2 linked regions of the Homo sapiens genome follow. The protein of the gene in region 2 interacts with the protein of the main gene of each other region in a biochemical or structural test. Each region holds a gene or a part of one and is shown on either strand. Other genes may lie near its edges.

Region 1 (10,182 bases), on a different chromosome or scaffold from region 2:
CCTTGCTAGCCACATTTGCATAATGTATTTTCAATTCTATATATTTTCTCCCTTGCCTGTTTTCCTCTTTCAAAGAAAATGAATTGCACTTGGGGGCAGAGATGGGTGGCCAAGGCTCTGTGCCAGCACTTGTCCTTCTGTAACCGTTTTTCAGCGTCAGCCAAGCCTCAGTCTCCCTTTGGACTGCCTGGTTATCTGGACCATACTTGTTACCTGTAATAGAATTCTCTGATCTGAGGACACAAGACACAAATATTCAGGAATAATTGTGCTTAGTGTATCCCGAGCAGCAGCTGTGTAAAGGTAGCCAAGCTAGTGCTGGAGGGTGAGACAGGTTGGGTAGAATGAGTACTGGGAAGTCTTCCTACTTGATGAGAAAAAAAAATCGAATAGACTTCCTTCTCACAGTGGGGGATTGAGAAAGGCTTTACAACACTAATGCTTAATTTATACTGGACCACTTCCTTCCTTGAGCTAGCTGGTCACAGCATTCTTGCTCCATATTTCAAATTCTTCTCTCGCTGGTTGACCTAACTTTAGGTCTGCTGCTACTCCTGGATTTAGATTTACTCCTGTTTTTCTTTTTCTCTTTTTTTGTGAGATAGAGTCTTACCTCAGCCTCCTGAGTAGCTGGGACTACAGGTGTGCACCACTATGCCTAGCTAATTTTTGTGTAATTACTATTTTTTTTTTGAGATAGGGTCTCACTCTGTTGCCCAGGCTGGAATGCAGTGGTGTGATCACAGCTCACTGCAGCCCTGACCTCCTGGGCTCAAGTGATCCTCTCACCTCAGCCTCCCAAGTAGCCGGGACTACTGGTACATGCACCCAGCTAATTGTTCTTTTCTTTCTTTCTTTCTTTTTTTAAGAAACAGGGTTTTGCCATGTTCCCCAGGCTGGTCTTGAACTCCTGGGCTCAAGTGCTCCACCCACCTTAGCCTGCCACAGTGCTGAGATTAGAGGCGTGAGCCACTATGCCCTGCCTGGATTTATTCCTTGAGTCAGAGTCTTCCTGGTTAGTTTGAATTGATGTGTCATTTGTAATATATTGATTCCAAAGAAAGAGGTTGAAAAAACTGGCTCAGGGGTTCTAAGGCCAAATCTGTGGAAGAGTAGACCTAAAACCACTCATTCTTTGAAGTCCACATGTAAAGAAATTTTCTTCTATTTCTTTCATTTAGCTGTTTGCAATAATTTTTTTTTAGTTTTTCTCTCCCAGTCTTTTTTTCAGTGACCTTATTTAAAATAGCTATTTTGGCTGGGCACGGTGGCTCATGCCTGTAATCTTATCAATGTGGGAGGCCAAGGCAGGTGGATCACTTGAGGTCAGAAGTTCAAGACTAGCCTGGCCAACATGGTGAAACCCTGTCTCTACTAAAAATACAAAAGTTAGCCAGACGCGGTGGCATGCGCCTGTAATTCCAGTTATTCTGGAGGCTGAGGCATGACGATCACTTGAACCCAGGAGGCAGAGGTTGCAGCGAGCCGAGATCGCACCGTTGTACTCCAGCCTGGGTGACAGAGTGAGACTCTATCTCAAAAAAAAAAAAAAAAAAAAAAAAAAAAAAGTTTTTGCGTTTGTTAGTCATCCGTGGTCTCTTCTTCAGAGATCTCATCCTTTCTGTATCTGGTTAAAAAAAAAAAAAGTGGAGCCTTTGTTTAATATCATTTACCTTAAAAATGGTTAAGTAGTACTTCTTAACCAAGAATTGTTATGTAGTAGCCTGTTCTTCTGTTTATTTATTTGGTTTTAGAAGTCATAAAAAATCCTGAACTGTATTGAAGAGATCTAGTATTTTTGGACCGTTTATAAAACAGTGTGAAATAAAAGCATCAGCATGACAGAACAACTTTTTATCAGAGATATTGTACTTTGTACAACTGGGGAAGGAAGGTACATGTAGAATCATTTTTCCTACATAACATGACAGGATTCGAGTCCCAAGAAAAAGCAAAAGTTCATGGTTCTCTTATTTCTTTTAACTTGGTCCTGTTTCATTTCAAGCCACATTAATTCACATCATCAATGTATGTGAATGCCCTCCAAATGCCTAGATCTGTGCTAGATGCTGGGGTGCCAAGATACAAAGAAAAGATCATTCAGACTGGAGAATGAAAAGCCTCAGAAGGTTATAGCAAACTACTAGACCTGTGTCTGTGGCTTATGAGGATATATTAGCATTTAACCTGTCTTCTCAAGAAAGCACGGTAAAGCTAAAGCATAATAGTGCGTTTATATTACGGTTTAAGGAGACCGGTGTCCTGATGACCACTCAGGCTTCTCTGTCCATGAAATCCAGCAGGTTTTTCTCTTTGCCCAAGCCTCCCTTTTTCTCTCTAAGGTTTTTTTTCTCATATCATTTCTTTTCAATCTATTAATTTAAAATATATTTAAAGTGCATTGGGTTTATTACACACAGCATATATTTTTTCACATAGAAGTCCTAATGATTAAGTGCTTTATTTTAGGAGTTGAGGCAGGAGAGGAAAACATTTTCCTTTCTAGTTACAGTATTACAAGTTAGCTATAATAGACTCATGGGAAAGTGGAAATAAAAAATACTGGCTATTACTAAAAAAACAAACAAAAGGGATGACAAGAAAACGAAGGAGAAAGATAAATAGTTATAACTTTCCAAAAATTATGCTCCCTAATTTTGTTCTAAGGGTTTGACTTACCATGGTAAGGTGGTATAGCACTGCCTTATCTGGACTGCCTGCATTTGAACCCTGGCCATGTCACTGTGTGATCCTGGGTGAGTTACTTAAGTTTTCTGTGTCTCAGTTCCTAATCTGTAAAGTGAAGATAAGAGCACTTAATTTGTAGGGTGGTTGTGAGAATTAAATGAGTGTGTGTTAAATTATATATACATAATATATACGTATATGTATATTATTGTATAAATATATATTTGTATTACATAATATATGCATATGTAATATTGTATTTGTAATGAGTTATAGTATGTATTACAACATATCACATTGTGTTGTATAATCTATACATATGTAATAACTCATTAGAAGAATGTCTGGCACATAATTAGCACTCAGCAATTAGCTATCATTTATAAATGCTCTCTTCTTAGACTCAATAATCTTCCTTTTGCCTGGAACTCAAAACTGTTTTCATGCCACATTTTTAACTGATTCTTTCCTTCAGCTGCTTGGAGTATTCATGACATGTATAACCTTTGTACATGCGTGAAATTGAGCAGGCCTAGAAGACTTTATTGTTGGTTACTAAGTTGGATTGCTTCAAAACATTTCTGCTGTAAGCACCCCTTTGAGGGTAGGCATGAAACTGTCTTAAAGGAACAGATGAAATGCCTTGGCCAGAGTTGTGGTGGTGGCTGACATAATTTCCTTACTTCTCATTCCTGTGTACAGACCATTTGACAATTTCCTTAAAACTTTTTAAACTTATGATGAATAAAGCCAGGAACTCTTGCTTATTTTCTGTCCTCCCTCTGCTCCTGTCACTAACTACTTCTGTAAACATAACTTCCCAACTTCTACTCCAACTTTAAAGCATCTGGTTCCTTAAATAAACAGGCCCTGTAGAGAGGCCGTGTTGTATGGGGTGTCAGCTCTGGGAAGAATGCGTGTGTTTGTTTGCTGGCTCTGGCAGGGTTGAGTCCAAGCTGACAGGACTGAGTGTGCCTGTCAGAGGCTTCAGGGAGCTGCCGCTGAAGACCTCGGCCTGTTGTTGTGAATCGCCAGACCTTTGTAACACCCGGAAGTCTGAAGGTCAGTCCTTTAATGCCCCGGAACTTCCTAACTGCCTCATTTCTTCCAATACTTGGCCTCTCTTCATCCTACCTTCCCTAGCACCCCCAGCCGTCTAGCTTATTTAATAGTCTCTTGAGTTCTGTTTCTTCCATTCAGCTTTGGATCAAGGAGTAGGAACTCTGTAGGATCTCCTTCTTGGTCCTGGTTGAGCAGAGTGAGCGAAACCTTCATGAAGAGTCTTCTCTCATGCAATGTATAGTCAGACCTTTAGCCCCTAGAGGGATGTTAAAATGACTTATGCATTGGATATTTCAGTAAGAAGTATCAGCAGATTTGATGAAGTGTAATTTATCTGGGGAAAGGTTAGTCTTCATCTGAAGTTTGGTTGGGATGAGAGTAGAAAGCTAGCCAGGTATGACAGATGGCTCCAAGGGAATGCAGTGTTAACAATTAGGTAAGTTCTCTGCTGACTCAAATGTTTGGCTCTGTGCACAGTGATTTTTAATTAGAAATCTGAGTCTCATGTCTGCTTGTGGAAATAATTGGAAGAAGGCTTATGTTCTGTTCAATTTCTAATGGCTATTTTCTTTTTGTGATTATTAACAACAATAATAGGCTTTCTATCCTGCTGTTTTGATCAGATCTTTCATGTCAGGGTCACAGATACTATTAGCAGTTTCTTCTGCACTCTGCCAGTTTCCAGTCAACTCTCGTCAACAGGCATTGGGTTCTCAGTGGGTGACTGCAGAGTCTGCGTTCCCCAACTTTGTCCCAGTTGGCCTGTTACCCTTGTGTGACCATCACATGCTGGGCAGTGCTTAGCACCAAGTTGTAATGGTCAGGACGGGGGAGTAACGTTTGTTCTTCTCCCTCCTTCCTACCTAATCCTACCCCTCAATTTTTTTTACAGAAAGTGAACTATGTTTTGAGGCTGCAGAAATGAGGCTCAGATATTTTATATAATTAGGAGCTAATATTAAGGCAGACAAAGCCATCACATTTGACATGTAATTTAAAATACAGCTTTTCTAGAAACAACAAAACTGTGGCAATGGCTCTGACAATATTATGAACTAGATACTGCATTTGTAGATTTCTACAAGTTTCAGTTCCCTTTCTCTCCTTTTGTCATCAGTGTTTTTATTGCATCTTTTACTTCTATTTTTAAAAACTTGGTGAAAACTTGTTCTTCCCACTATGTGGTCTCAGTGATTTGTATGCAGGTGGATTTGAGGATTAATGGGGCTTGAAGAACAAGCTGATCAATTTCAGTCAGTTCTAGGCAGCTTTTTTGTTCTTGTTTCAATGGTGACTGCAGTCAAAGTTGGGTTAGTAATATGTTGCTTTGAGATAGTTTGGTTGAATGAATGTTCATGACAGATTCCTCATACCTATGAAAATTTTTAGGTGAAAGATGGAGGCTGTTTTTCCTTCTCTATCCCCAATCTCAATCTCAGGAAACCACAGTAAAAACAAAATCCTTCCACTCAGAACCTGTCGTGTTTTGCCGAGGAAGTTTTCTGTGAATGTAACTTATTTTCTGTTTTGTGTTTTAGTCTCTGGCCCTCGATTCCTCATCTACAGCACAAGAAGTTTTGGACTAGCTTTAAAATTTCTTTCAAAAATTCTATGATTCATATGGGAGAGGCCAGAGGTTGTGATCACAAATGTTTTCCTGGCTGATTCCAAATTTAGAAGCAAACTGTGGCTGTTTGACTTCCCAGTCAAACTTGAACATAGCATGGATTTCACATTTAGGGGTGTTTTACTACCACCTCCAGAACTTGCTTCAGTGAAATATGCATGTTCTTAAAGATAGCAGGAGTACTTTTTTTCATGTAGTTATGAAAGACATTTTTCTCTTTTATTTTGGGGGTAATATTTTACCGTTTGTTCCTTGTTGGCTGAAAAATCTAATGCTAATAAAAGCTACTAGCTTGAATAGTCCAAAAGCAAACCCAACAGATAGCAGTAAATTCATTTTTCTTTTTCCCTTTCCTATAGTACTCTGCCAAAACTGGGGCTTTTTTTCTTCATCCTGGCTGCCTGTGTGTTTGAAAATAGATGGTCAGCTTACCATAAATATATTCACATGTAGAAACTTATATGTGATTAATTGGCTTGATTTATTTTTATCAGAAGAAAACGTATGTATGTTCCTTCTCTGGCTTATGAATACTATCCGTCTTATGTTTGCTTTGGATAAGCATTTTAGTCTTCCTGTATGTCCTAAAACGCGCGCGCGCACACACACACACACACACACACACACATACACACACACACACACACTTTCTAATATTGTACTGAAGCCAGTTTGCAAGTCTGGTTCCACAGTACAATTGCTCTGAAGGACCAGGAGAAATTGAACTGGGAAGGAAAATTTGTATTAACTTCAATAATTCCCAGACAAGTTAGTTCAAATCATTTTTATCTAGTATTTGCTATTTGTCACAAAGGATTCAAAACATAAATATGTTGTATACAAAATCTCAAAGAGATGTCTCAATACCCAGATTTGGGTCCTGGCTCTGCTGCTTCATAGCTGTGTGATTATGGAAAATCACTTAACTTCAGTGGTCTTTACAGTTGTTTTTTAAACTAGAGCAGCAGCTCTTAGGATTGTTTGGAGGGTCAAATGAGAAGTTTTATCAACGTGTTTTGTTAAAGGTAAAGTACTATATAGATGTCATTCATTTAGACACTTACTGAGCTGCCTGCCATGTACTGAGTGGAGTCCAGACCTGTGCATAAACAAAGCAAAGCACTGGGGCTATCTTAAGGATTTAGGTGTTCAGAGATGTTTCACTGGGAGTTTGGAAGAAGGCTTGACCACTGCAGTGCAGTGTTCTGGGAAAGCCCTCTGGCTGAAGAGAGAATCAAAGTGGAGGTGATTTTTAGGGAGATCTGTAACGGCACGAAGGAAGTAGGAAAATCCAAGATATGTTCAAGGGATGGTCAACAGAAACTTTATTTTAGGGTGAGGTAGTTGATGGGGAGTATGACTAAGGTTTCCAGGAAAACATATAGGGAAGTTAAAAAAAAGATAGCTCTTTTGTGGGGGATGGAAAGAGAGGAGGGGCGTGGGTAGTGAGTTTGGCAAAAGGACTTACTTGTGAAAGAGAGAGTTTTAACAGATAGTGCTAGACATGAGGCTAGAGCTGGAGGAACCAGAGGTAGAAATGGGGAGCCAAGAAGAGTTCCCCTTTCAGAGGCCGGCCATTGCTTTGGTCTTGGATGTGAAGGTCCCAGAGGAAAGCAGAACAGAAGGTGAGGCAGACCATCCTTTATACTTGAAGTGCTAACGTTTCCAAAAAGCACTCCTAAACTTCTGGACCTGGTTGAAGAAGAATGTGAGCCAAGGCATGAGGAAGCCAGGAGCTGTAAGACAGTGATGCCTATGAACAGATTTTTCTGAACATTTGTGAACAAGGATAAGGTTGAACTCTTGCTGATAATGTGCTTAATGGTTTGAATCATGGATTATTGGGCCGATTAGCTGGTCAGAGCCCTTTTGCTGATGCGGCTGGCTGACTTGCTTACTGGCCAAGAGCTGGGAGTAGAACACAGATGTCCCAACATGGTGCTGCATTTGGAAGTGTTTCATAGGAGTGTTGAAATCAATGCATTTGCTTTAGGGATAAGGCAAAGTTATGAGATCCCAGTTATAAGTAATATAGTTGTGAATTCTACTCTTTTTCTCAAGGTCATAGTACCCTCAACAGAGCTCAACTAGCCTTTCTAGGCCTCAGTTTCCCGTCACATAAAATGGAGGATTATCATGAAGTTTTGAAGGGAAGATATATGTGAAAATATTTTGAAACCTTGAAGTACCGTATGAGTATGATTTGTATAATTCCTTAATAAACCTGCTGATGTGTCACAGCCCCCACAGGGCCTGCTTGTCAGCCAGGTGATCCTGATAGATACAGCCCTTGAGCCAAACCCTGAGGAGCATGTGTATTAAAGCAGACGGATGAGGCATAAATGCGTTTGGTTTATCACTTGGCAGAGTTGGATGACAGGCTTGGGTGGGGGTGGCAAGAATTAAAGTGAGTCAAGATTGGCAGAAATGTAAGACGTGTATGTAGTGGTTTTCTTCTTTTTTTAAGCCTTTGTGATTATGTCAAACTTTTGTTAATATAATTGATGATGGTTTGAGGCAGTAGTTTGGGGGAACAGGATCTCAGGTATTAGATCTGGATTCAAACTTCAGTGGTGACCATGGACAAATTAACCTCTCTGAACCTTAGATTTTTCATCTATGAAATGGGAGTACTAATACTACCTCTTAGGGTCATTGTGAAGATAGTACAGGATTTAGTGTATATTCTTTTGTTGAGGATTTCTTGTAATGATTTTCATTACAAAGCTTCTGACACATTACCAGTTAGATGCTTAAATATTTGTACATGTGCTTAATTTTTTTCATATCTCTAATATTTCTAGAGAATTATTATAGGTACTCACAAGAACTGCATCTGGATTAAGACATATTAGCCCTGGCTAAGCAGGGTGACTCACACCTATAATCCCAAGATTTTTGGAGTCTGAGGCAAGAGAATCACTTGAGCCCATGAGTTTGAAACCAGCCTGGGCAACATAGTGAGACCCCATCTGTATAAAAAAATTTTTTTAATTAGCCTGGTATGGTAGCATATGCCGGTAGCCCTAGCCACACAAGAGTCTGAGGTGAGGGGATCACTTGAGCCCAGGAGTTTTGAGGCTGTCGTGAGCTATGATTGCGCCGCTGCATTCCAGTCTGGGCAACAGAGCGAGATACTGTCTTCCAAAAATACAAAAAAATTTATTAGGGGTAGGTAGTGGTGCACATCTAGAGTTCCAGCTATTTGGAAGGCTGAGGCAGGAGGATAGCTTGAGCCCAGGAGTTCAAAGCTATAGGACACTGTGATCGCATCTGTGAATAACCACTGTACGCCAGCCTGGGCAACATAGTGAGGTCCCATATCTAAAAGGAAAAAAAAATGTACTACTTGTATCACTGGACTCAGGATGAAAAAAGAGGAGGGTGGGAGATAGGTTTAGGCAGAGATCATCTATTCAAAATGCCTTTCTTTCTTTTTCTTTTTTTTTTGAGACAGGGTCTCGCTCTGTTGCCCAGGCTGGAGTGCAGTGGCACTATCTCGGCTCACTGCAACCTCCGCCTCTGGGGCTCAAGCAGTTCTCTGCCTCAGCCCCCCAAGTAGCTGGGATTACAGGTGCCCGCCACCACACCCGGCTAATTTTTGTATTTTTAGTAGAGATGGGGTTTCACCATCTTGGCCAGGCTGGTCTTAAACTCCTGACCTCGTGATCCACCCACCTCGGCCCCAAAGTGTTGGGATTGCAGGCGTGAGCCACCGCGCCCAGCCCAAAATGCCTTTCTTGAAGCTATGGGAGATAGAGAAGAAAATAATCAGATTAATAATCAGAAAACAGTAATCAGATACCTGGTCATCTGGTTATAATAGCTTCAAGCATATATGGTTAAATAGTTTTTGTTTTGTTTTAAAACAAAATTTTAAATTTTAAACAAAATTTAAAAATTTAAGAGACATGGTCTTTACTGTGTCACCCAGACTGGAGTGCAGGGGTGTAATCATGGTTTGTTGTAACCTTGAATTCCTGGGCTCAAGTGATCCTCCTGCCTCAGCCTCTGCAGTAGCTAGGACTACAGGCACATATCCCTGTGCCTGGCTAGTAAATAGGTTGAAATAACTTAAAGTTATTTATTTTTATTTATTTATTTTTTGAGACTGAGTCTCACTGTTGTCCTGGCTGGATGGAGTACAGTGGCATGATTTCAGCTCACTGCAACCTCTGCCTCCTGGGTTCAAGTGATCCTCCTGCCTCAGCCTCCAAAGTAGCTGGGACTGCAGATGTGCACCACCACACCTGGCTAATTTTTGTATTTTTAGTAGAGATGGGGTTTCACCATGTTGGCCAGGCTGGTCTTGAACTCCTGACCTCAGGTGATCTGCCTGCCTCAGCCTCCCAAAGTGCTGGGATTACAGGCATGAGCCACTGCACCTGACCAAATTATTTTTTAAAGACTATAATTTAATAACAATTTTTCTTCCCCTTCATTAAGCTTTAATTTGTTAAGAGTTAATGGCTCTGGTTTAAGTTGATAGCTCTGAAATAGCACCTTGCATATTTCACCCCTTTCTTTAACTGAGCAGCTGCTGTTAGCTTTGCACTCTACTGATCTCTGTGAAGTTTCAAGAAATATTAGTGAAATGTGATAGGTACTTCTTAGGAACTTTGCTTGAAAGAATAGCGGACCAGAATGTTGATGGAATTATTTTTTATTATGTGCATATTGCTTTTTTAAACTTTTAACAATTATTTAAAAATAGAGATGAGGTCTTACTATGCTGCCTAGGCTGGTCTGGGATTCCTGGGCTCAAGTGATCCTTCCGCCTGGGCCTCCCAAAGTGCTAGGAGTAT
Region 2 (10,846 bases):
CCCCACAGGGTACATTCATCAAAGAGGAATTTGTCACCCAAGGCCATGTGCTTTTCAGTGGAAAGGAAGGAGGGAAACCTCTAAGGCCGCACGGTGGGCCCACGGAGCTAGCACGTGGGCGGGACTGAAGGCTGGATGCCGGGATTGAGGTGGGGAACTAGAGATGACTCTAAGGCAGGAACATCTGTACCATCTGCAGGGAAATGCTACCTCCCCGGGTGCCAGAGCTCCAACCCCACACACTATGTCTACTCTGGAGAGCCGGCAAGGCAGAGCTGGACTGGCTGGGTCAGGGTGGAAGTGCCCCAAGTCAGGGACAAGGAGGACGATGGGGACGATGGGGAGGAGAGACAAGTAAACTAGCAGTGCTTTTTAAAAAAATGTTTAAATAATAAATAAGGGCCCGGAGACATCTCTCTTGGTAAACTCTCTCTTCCTCCGGCCAGGCCCAGGTGTGGTCCACACCAGCAGATAAAAAGGGAAGAGAAACCCAGCTCCCGGCCTGGCAGAGCTGTTTCACGCAAAGGCTCTGTGATTCAGTGATGCTGTGCAGGGTGGACGCCAAGCTGCCGGACGGGATCTGGAGGGAGCACTGAGGATGGGTCCCATGGGGCCAAGTCCAGGCTGGGTGGGAGAGCGACTCAGAGCCAGGGCCGCAAGGTGGGCCTGGCACAGAGCTCCCAAGTCCACAGGGAGATGAGGTGATGGGCGAGTCAGCCGGGCCCCCCGGGTGGAATCAGCAACTCTGGTTTCCAGACAAGTTTGTCTTTCTCGAAGCCCATCCTGGGGGAATGCAGCCAGCCCCAAGCTAAGCCGGATGAAGCAGGAAGGAGAAGGCAGTCCCTGCATCCTGGACAAGGGTGAGTGTGGCCCACATCTCAACAGCCACATCCTCGTCTTGCTGTTGGGATGGACAGATGGACAACTCCGGGCCGCACCCTCCACCCCAACCCCAGGCCTCAGGACCTGCCTGCACACTGCCCACGCGCCATCCAGGTAAAGTGCTTAGAGAGCGACAGGGAAAGGTGCAAAGTGAGTGAAAAGTACCATAATTAGTACCATCATCTTGTCGGAGGAACTTGGAGGCCGGCAGCCCGCTCAGGGTTTGAGAAGAAGCCAGAACACTGCTCTGAGCAGCTGCCCCAACTCTGCTGCCTCCTTCCCTCCCCTGCTCTCAGACTGGAGGGCGTTTCTCCACTCGCCTGGCCCCAGCACAAAGGAAGAGATCGGGTTCCCTGCCTGGGAGCCCAGACATGGGTGGGAGTGGGATGGGGGTGGAGCAGGAGGGCCCACAGCTTCCTGGTCTGAGTCCCAGGCATCTGCAGCCTCCCTCTCCTCCTCTTGGGAGCAATGGGCAGCTGATCCCCCCAGTCTACCCCACCTTCCTGGGGTCTGGCCCAGCCAGGCCCCCCGCACCGTCTATGGGTGTCCGGGCCACAGGAGGAGCTTCCCTGCTGTGTCGGAGCATGCTGGGTGCAGGGGCAGGGTTGTTCCAGGGCGCTATTTCAGAGGCAGCATGGGGACACAGAAACAAGGACAGGGTGGGCCACAAGGACTGTCTTGCCCACTGCTCCAGGGGGCACAATATCTGCCAGGAACAGTGCGCCTCACAACACAATGCTGGGGCGCCCAAGAACAGTGTGAACCAGCCCCCTGGAATCAAGACAGAAAGGCACCCGGCCTCTCCACAAATTGGCCCAGCCCCTGCAGCCTGGACCCTGACACCCTAAAGCAAGTCACAGTAGGGGATGGGGGGGGGTGGAGCAAGGCCCCCCACTCCCACTCAGGCCTCCCCATTCTCTCAGATCCGACCCTTCTCTGAGCTTCACCCGTAAGGCTTATTCCACTTGTAACATTGTCGACTTCCAGACCAGGCCCTGCTAAGCCCTGGCCCTGGCGCTTGTGTCGGGAGCCATCATCATATTTTGTTGAGTAGGGACCAGGGAAAGGGGAATTAACTTGGCCACTGAAAGCACCAATAAGTTAATATAAATAGGATATCATAATAAATAGAAATCATGCCAGGTCAGACGCACAGCACGCTTGGAGCTCAGGGTTCCCTGAGACCCTGACCCTAAGTTCTGCTGTTCCCTTGCCCTGGGGACCAGAGACGGCCTCCAGTCCCCCTCAAGTACCTCTGTGTGACCTCACAAGGCCTCCCAGGGCCTCAGATGTGAGCTGCTACTCTGAGCTACCCCAGCCCCTTCTTACAGACCTTTACCCAGAGGAAGAGCCTGGGTCCCTCAGAACCTCTGCACCTGACTTAGCAACCTGCCCCTGCCCTACCCACCTCCACAAACCCCTGCTGCAGGTCCAGCCATCAGACCCTGGCCATCCCAGGCTGCAGGGAAGATCACGGGGAAGAGAACGAAGAACCTACCAAAGCTTTCCAGGCCTCTCCTCCTCCCAGTGTCTTCCTTCCCAGGCCTGAAGGTGGCTTCTCTGCCTCCCCAAGAGCCTGAATGCCAAGTGACCTCCTTCTGGAAACTTCTGCCAGATTGTTCCTATGCCCAAGTTCTCTGATCATCCTCAAAAGAAGACAGCCTTCCATCCCAGAGGCCCCTCTCTATCTTCCACTCATCAAACTTCTAGGGGACAAGGAGTCCTTTGGGATCCTAGCCCCTCTGGCCCACCTAAGTCCCAACCTAAGGGGCAGCAAAGGCACAGATGGTGATAATTTGCTGGGGGCTGGTCCACTCCCCTGGGCCCTGCTGTCTCACCCTGTGGTCAGGGCTCTTGTAGATGACTTGTGTAGTTTGTTCACTGCACAAAGTGAGCAAGGGGCCAAAGGGACAAGTAGAGGCAGAAGTCCAGCCCACGCTCCCCAGTCCACAATCTCCCAGAGGAAGGGGCACCTTCTTCTAGCTCCCTCCCTATGGAAGTTTCCACTCTGCTCAGCTTCATCACAGCCCAGCCCAGAGTGGAGTGGACTGGCCAGGCACCCTCGGGGTCTGCCAGCAGCCCCCATTTGGGTTTAGCGATGCCCTGGGCCCCAGCCACCCTTGGACAGGCCCCCACATCTGGACCCAACTCCTGAGATCCCTCGGTTCACAGCACACTTCAAGACCTCCTGCTAGAAGGCCTGGGCCAACACGGCGATGATCTGCTTATACTTCCCCAGGAGTTGACAGCCCAGCTTCTTCTTCTGGAAGACATCCTTACCCGAGGTGTCAGGGCCGTAGGTCACGTCCACATGGCCCACGTGGTACTTGCTGCACAGGCGGCACAGCACGTTGCTAAGGAGGCCTCGCAGGATGTCGGCGGTGGCGTTGAGCTTGCTGTGGAGGCTGAGGGCACTGGGGTTGAGGATCTTCTGGTCCCGGGTGATGTTGCCCAGGGAGGTGCCAAGGTACACGACTATGCGGTACAGCTCCACCAGCTTGGCCTTCTCCGTGCCGTTGGCGTGGAAGGGCGGGAAGTCCGTCACGTTGGGGCCACATAGCTTGTCCAGGTTGTTGGGGAACGGCTCCCCCTGGGCTGTGTACTGAGGGGCAGAAGGGAGGTGACGTGGGAGTCAGGGGTCAGTGTCCCAGCCCTGCCGCCAACCCTTTGGGCAAGCTCTTGCGTCTGTTTCCCCATCTAGCGCATGAGGACCCAACTCCTTGCCCTGTAAGCATCTGGAATTGTCATGAGAGCCAAAACTAATTGTAATGTGAGTGCCCTTGCTAAAGATCAAAGACTGAGCCATGCACGCAGTCATCATTATCATCATCATCATCATCACCACCCTAAGGGGACAGAAGGGAAAACTCGGTGTCTAGCCCTAGCTGGGGCACCACACACAAGTACTTCCATCCCTGCACTCACAATGTTCCGGGACGCCCCTCCATGCCCAGCACCCACAGCCCACTGCCTCTCAACCGCATCTCCCTGGTGCCTCACGCCCATTTCCCCTCCATCCCTCGCTCCCTGCAGCAGGACAATCACAAGATAAGAAGTGCCAGGTCCCCACCTTTGCACTCAGTTCTCCCCTTGCTAACTGGGCACCCTGGGGAAGCTTCCCTGGGGAAGCTTGGGCAGGAAGTGGCGGGAGTCTGGGGGTGGTTTAATCAAGCCCTCTCCCCATTCTCTCCTTCCAGCCCCAAAAGGTCCCCTCAACCCAGATCAGGACAGCCCCTAATGATATTTACAAGCCCCCTCCCTGCCATCTCCTGTCAGTATCCCAGGGGTAACTTACATAGAGAATAAAGAGGGCATTGGCACTGCCATTGAGCTGTGCCAGTTGGCTCCTGATCTGGTTCATGAGGTTGTTGTGACATGGGTGGCGTATGGCACAGGTGGCGTTGACAGGGGTGATGGGGAGGGGGCTCCCCGCCCCATGTTTCCAGTGCAGAACCAACAGCAGGGGCACAACTCCTGGGGACAGTCAGGAAGAAGCCATGAGTAGAAAGGCAGGAAAGGGTGGCCTGGGGTCATGGCACACCGGATGGGGGTCCAACAATGGCCGCATGGGAGAGGACTCCTGGTTCCCCCTCACCACCTGCAGCTGTCTTCCTGGGGCCTAGTCTTCACTCTGTCACTGCGTGTGTTTCTCTGTCTCCCTTTCTCTACCTTAGTTCTCCCTGCTCTCTTCTGGGATGACGTAAAGATGAGGGCAAGACACAAGCCATTTCCACCCAAAGGGTGCAGGGTCCAGGAGAGACTCCCAGCCATCCCACCCTTTCCCTCAGGAAGGCAAAGGTCCTAAGGCCCCCTGGCCCTCTGGCTGGAAGGCACCAGGCCCCAGGCCCAGCAGGCACCAGGAGAAAGGAGACCCCTCTCTTCCCACCTCCCGTGGTGGCCCAGGTTCCTCAGCAGCGCTTCCCACTCACTGGCCCATTGCAGCCCAAATCTCCGAAGCCAGGCACCCATGGGGGCCACGGGGCATGGGGGAGTGGGGAGGAGTCCTCGGTTGACCCTCATCTCCCTCCCAAACCTGCCACTTGATTCTGGCTCCCTGGGCCAATTGCCCCCAATTCTGCCCCCGCCCCCATCATCCTCTATCTCTTCCTTCCCTAGTGTCCCCTATCTCACTCAAGCTCACCCCATTTCTGCCTGGCTGTCCCCACTCTCCATCCCCAAATCATCATTCAAAACTCTCTGTTCCCCCAGCTCCGGACAGCCCCTGACTCCATGCCTTCTCCCGACTCATCCGCTGTCCCTTGTCCCAGGGGTTCCCCTCCCTCCTAACACACACACACCGGCTCAGGGAGGGAGAGGAAATGGTGCACCAGGAGAGAGAAAAGGCAAAAGGTCATAGGCAGTCGGGTGGGCGGGGAGGAAGGAAAGTGAAAGGTGACAGGAGAGCTGGGAGCTGTCCCGACATGTCCTGGTTTGCCCCTCCCCCAGGGGGGCCTGTTCTCCCGACTCCCCCCAGGCCCCCTTAGACGCTTTTCCAGGGCTCTGCAGAAGGGCACCTGAAGATGGTGGGGGCCGGGGTCAGCGGGCGAGTGAGGCTGGAGACCTCCCCCGGATCCCCCATGCTGGAACAGCGGGGACAGGGGCCTCCTCAAGTTCACTTCTCCTGGGTCCCCTGTTCGTCCCAGCATCCCAAGGCAGTGCTGAGGCCCCGGGGTGGCTGCGGGAGGGGGGCCACACCCCTATATCTCACCTAGCGCAGACCACACGCTTCCAGACACCAGCAGATGGAGGCGGCACCTGCTCCCGTCCCAGGCCGGAGTTTGCAAGCTGCTCGCCGCCCGCGCCCCTCCCTGGGAGCAGCCCGGGACCGCGGTTGGAAAGGAGAAAGCGGAAAGAAAGAAAGAAAAGAAAAAGAGAGAGGGAGAGTGAATCTGGGAGAAAGCGCAGAGGGAAGAGCAGCCAGCGAGTGTCCGGAGCGAGGAGGAGGAGGAGGAGAAGGAGAGGGGGAAGAAGAGGAGGAGGAGGAAGGCTCGGCGCCCCCTCCCTCGCCGCCAACCTGCCGCGGGGCGTGCGGTGCTTGGGACCATGTGCCCGCGCTCGCTCCGGGCCGCCACCCAGCGCCTCCGGTGGCTGCGCGGGCGCCCCAAGTGTTCGTGTGTCTGCGGCGGGTGGGCGTCCGGCTCGCGCTGCCAAGCGCCCCAAGTTGCCGCCGCGCCCCGCAGCGGGGACGCGAAGCCGGCGCGGGGCGGGTGTATTTACCTGCCGCCAAGACCTTCATTATGGGCTGCACTTCAGAGGGCCTTGGAGGAAACCTCAGATGCCGGCAGTTTTCAGAGGTTCATGCTCAAATGGGGAATTTGCCTGATTTATATACTGGAGCCTGTGTTGTAAGACAGAAACAGCTATATTTAGCCGGGATCCCCAGTCCAGGAAGTTGTTTGAGGTGCATCATAGGAAATTATGAATGGAAGAAAGTGAGAGTGAAGGGGGGGGACGAGTGAGGGGGGAGGGTGGGGAGAACAGACTTTTTCCCTCTTCTAAGAATTTGATTGATAAAATTATAATGAAGCCTTCGACAAAACGCCCTGTGGTTTTCCTGCCTGGCTTGTCCCGGGAGTTGTCTGAAGATGGGCATCGCCAGGAGGGGGCCCCTGGCCGAGTCAGCAGGGGTCCCAGCAGTGGGCGCCCCAGACGGCCCTGACTCACCTGGGTTTGGGGAGGTAGCGAGTCTGGACTAGCAGATGGAGACTGGCCCCTGTGCCCCCTGGTTGGGGGGCTTTAGGGGGGCAGTGGGAGGAGGAGGGCTAGGGCTTGGCTGAGAAGGAGGCTCCAGGAGGAGGGGCCGGGGCCGGCGTGGACTTTAGACGGTCATAAAGTGGAACTGAACATGGGCGCTGGAAGCCACCCCAGAGGTAGCCTCCTCCAATCTGCACATTGCCACTGGGCCCCAAGGGGCTCCGAGGGGAACACGTTGCCCAGGGCCCCAGAGGGTCAGGCCTCCAGACACCACCAGTGCACTCGCCCTGCTGACCACTGTACCTGTGAGGCTGGGGAAGGGGCTAGGAAGACATGGGGGTAGGGGTGACTGACTCAGTTCTGTCGGGACACTCTGGGAAGGTGCTTCTGGGAAGGCGGTCCAGCATTTCCATTCTGAAGCAGGACTGAGAGAGGCTTGGCGAAATCGTACCCCAGTTTCCTCCTCCGGGTGCTGATTGATGGTTGGGGAAACTGAGAAGTGGCTGGTCCCTTCCAGACCTGCCTTGGAAGCCCCTTTGAGCCCAGCCTCAGAGAATGATGGAGGTCCCCAAAAAGTGCTTCTAGAGGCTCTAAGGCAGTGTCACATGTTCTGGCGTCTTCTGAGGCCAGGCGATTTGTGAATGAGGAAGGGCAGAAAGGAGCAGTGGGGAGCCGGGCAAAATGAGCACAGGGACACCTCCAAGAAATGCAACAGAAAAGTGAAAATAAATACACCCTATGAGATGCGGGAATGCCGGCCAGACAGCATGGCCACGCGTCTGGGGCCATGCCGTCCCTAAAGCTGCCAGGGGACCCCCAGTACCAGGAGATGATTTAGTCCCCTGTGGCCCCTTCCCAGCCCTTCCGCCTGACCCTGACCTGAGATCAAGGTGTGTGAGTTGGTTTTCCAAGGCCAGGGAGCTCTTGCAGCCTCGCCCGGGCCCCCACCGCCCCCTCGCCCATCCTCCATGCCCCCAGTTCCTGCCTCTTGCCACATCCCAGACCTGCCCAGCCACGGGTTCCTCCTTCATCGTGCCAGGACGAGCCCTGGTGCCTGCTGCCGTTCCCCACCACACACACACCCTGCTTTATCTACGCTCTTGCCCCCCATTCTCTCCCAGCAGGGCCTCGGATGTGAGGTGATAAAACTGCCCATCCCAGCTGGCACTTCCCGAACTGGCTCTCCTTCCTCCTTCCTGCCTCTCACCCCACACCTTGTCTCTTCTTTGAGGGACCATGGAGGGCCCCACTTGGCACTTACTGCTCCTATACACTTGCTCTGGGGTCAGCGTACACTACTAGGAGACTCACCTGCCCTGGCCTGGCTCAGGTAACCCCACATCCCAGGACACCCCAGCTCAACCCTTCTTCTTACACCTCCCCCAGCATCTCCTGCACAAGGACCTGACCACTCAGAGCACGTGAGCTCTGGACCAGTCCCCAGTCCCATCCCACATCACCCAGACCCCTGCCACCTGACTCAGCCTGGCTCTCCTGACATGGACCCCAAATCCATGTGACCAGGGGCTCACTGTGGCCTCCACCCATCAAACCCCCGTCGCCCGGCCTGAGTCTCTCATTAGGCTCAAGAGTTCTGCAGCTGCCCCTACATCTACCATTCTGCCCAGTCTCCCCTGCATCCTTCCAAGCGGACCCCCAGGCCCTTGCATGCCTTCTGGCAAGCCAGACCCCACATCAGCCCTATAATCCACCCCCAATCGCTGTTTAATCTCAGCCCCACCCCACAGGAAACAGGAAGTGAGGACAGGGTCTAGAAGACACTGACACTAAGGCCCCTTAACCCCAGCCCTGACTGGCCCCTCCAGTGCCTCAGTTTCCCCTCCTCTCACGGTACCTGACTTGGTTTGTGCTCCCCAAGTGCTCTGGGCCCCTCGGCGCCCCAGGCCCAGCCTCCCCCTCCTGTCCATGTCCAGGCACCACCTGCTCTGGGCCTCTGGAGGGAAGGCTGGGCAGGGTCTCGGAGCCGCAAGTCCGTGTGCCGCCTGCAACGTGGCTGCGGCCCCCAGGAATCAGCCGCCCAGGCTACGCTCCAGGCCCACTTTGGTCTCTGGGAGTTTGTTTTCTTCCCTCCCTCTCTATGCTGTGTGTGTGTGTTCCCCGCCCCCGGCCGGCTCCCTCATGGAAGGCACCCTCCCTTCTTGGCTGCCGGCTCCCAGGGTCACGACCCCAGGCCCCACCCTGGAGTGGCAGCCCCGGCTTGGCCCCTTCCAGCTGTGACTTCATCCACAGCCTGTCCTGCTCCTGCAGATGGGGCCTGCTGGGGATTTGACCGGTCTCAGGGTGAGCGGGACAGTCCCGGCCACATGGGACCCCCTGACATTGAGCAGAGGTTACTAGGCCAGAACCCAGGAGTGCTGTCTCCAGGTGGCTGTGCCATCCAACCCATCACTGCTCTCCAGGAAGGGAGTGCACCCTCTAGCACGTGCAGCTACCCAGCTGCTCGTCTTCTGCTGATTGTTACCCCCCATCCACAAGTCTCTCCTGGGATATCACAGCTGCTTATTTTCCAGATGGGGAAATTGAGGCTCAGAGAGGTGAAGATAACTATGTGGGGCTCACATAAAGAGTTAATAACAGAGCCAGGTCTGGAACCGGGGCTTCTGTCTTGCAGGCCACAACAATCCCTGCAGCACCTCTTGCTCTGAGAGGGCGAAGGGCATGGCAGGAGTGCTCGGGTCGCCTTCCTCCAGGAAGCCTCCCCTGCCTCCCATGGCCCCGACCAGCTCACATCGGCCATGTCCTGCCTGCTCGTGTTTCAAGTGGGGATGAGTCTTATTCCTCAACCTTTGAGAGTTTGAATGGGGTCTGAGACTCACTTGTGCTCTAGACAGCACCTGGCTCAGGGCTATACTCTGACATGAATAGAGGTTAAGTATTTTTTGAGAAAGCATTTTATAGTTTCCAAAAACTGTCAGTGCCAACTCTCTTGTGGAAAGGAGATGGAGAGGCCTGAAGGTTTGAAGAATGGACTCTGGCCTCATTCACAACCAGGTTGGAGGTTTGGCTCTGCCAGTTATGAGCTGAGTGACTTTGGGGAAGGGACTACCACCTCCTGGCCTCAGTTTCTTCAACTATAAAATGGGAATAATGGTACCGCCTTTGTGGGTCTGCTGTGAGGGCTCAGGGCTCAGCATGGTTCTGGGCACCCAGCAAGCCACCTGTCTGCATATCATCACCCATTGTGCTGACCTCCCTGTGAAGCAGGGGTTCATTTGACAGATGGGGAAACTTGGGTCCATGCCAGGGTGCTGAGCGGGGAAGGCTGGGCAGGAGCAAGACCTCTCAAGCCTCTGCTGATGGTAAATTGAGGCAAGATACCCACGTAGCCTCCAGCTTCAAGGGTGCCCCAGATAAATCAGACAGGTTGTGGGAGGGGGCTGGCAGGGCAGTGTGCTCACTCCCCCAGAGCCCCCTTCCTGGCCCCTCACCACCCCCACCCCAAGCCTGATCTGAGGACAGCAGCTGACCTGGCCTTACCGCCCCCAGAAGCTGATTCACCCCCAGGCCCCATGTGAGAAGGAAGGAGACAAACTCAGCTCTGAGGGGCTTGAATCACCAGCCGCCCCCTGCAAAGCCCCGGGGTTGGGGGGGGGATGCGGGGGTGGGGGCCAGCCCCCTGCCTGTCTGTCTCTTTCCTGGACCCTGGGGCTCTCAGGAGAGAGGGCAGCATGTCAGTGGCATGGGCAGGGGTGAGATGGGAGGTCCCTTCACAGTCAGGCATTCTGTGTGGGCAGCCAGCAGCAGTTACTCACCAGGTAAGCAGCTCTCCGGGCATTGGGGAATTCCCCAAGACCAGCGACCCAGAAACAGCGCTCCGGGCACCCCCGGCTGCCCAGGCTGGCCTCCCTCCTTCCTTCCCCATCCCCTCTGGCCCTGGTACCTGGAAAATGAGCAGAGCCCTCAGGTGGGCCTAGGAAGGAAGCGGGGGGCCAGAGGGTGGGTCCCAGGCTCAGGGCTGGTGAGGAGTGGCCAGAGGAGATGGTGAAGCTCAGGAATGCCGGGCACAGCCCAGCCAATTGGGCATCCTGGCCAAAAAGGCAAGAGCACCGCACTCTTCAATGCTTGAGGAGTGAGAGTGTGATGCCACCAGCGGACCGTGCCTCCACTGTTCTCACCCCAGTGGTGTGGGTTCAAATCCCTCCTGCCCCAACAACCAGCTATGTGGCCCGGGACAACGGGCTTCCTTTCTCATACCCTCGGTTTCCCCTCTGCAAATGAGGATGCTGTCATAACAGCCTCGTGGGGCCAT

The links.
Region 1: the proteins of LIF (region 2) and SORT1 interact in a biophysical measurement, tested with the Homo sapiens proteins (one study listed by IntAct).

The regions. Positions count from the first base shown.
Region 1 is NC_000001.11:109,386,595-109,396,776, reverse strand, and holds part of SORT1 (sortilin isoform 1 preproprotein), read left to right. Parts: intron 1-3,641; exon of another isoform or gene 3,642-3,750; intron 3,751-10,182.
Region 2 is NC_000022.11:30,240,578-30,251,423, forward strand, and holds the start of LIF (leukemia inhibitory factor isoform 1 precursor), read right to left. Parts: upstream 6,183-10,846; 5' UTR 6,119-6,182; coding exon 6,100-6,118; exon of another isoform or gene 5,928-6,099; coding exon of another isoform or gene 5,591-5,927; intron 4,357-5,590; coding exon 4,178-4,356; intron 3,485-4,177; coding exon 3,074-3,484; 3' UTR 1-3,073. UniProt on the Homo sapiens protein: LIF has the capacity to induce terminal differentiation in leukemic cells.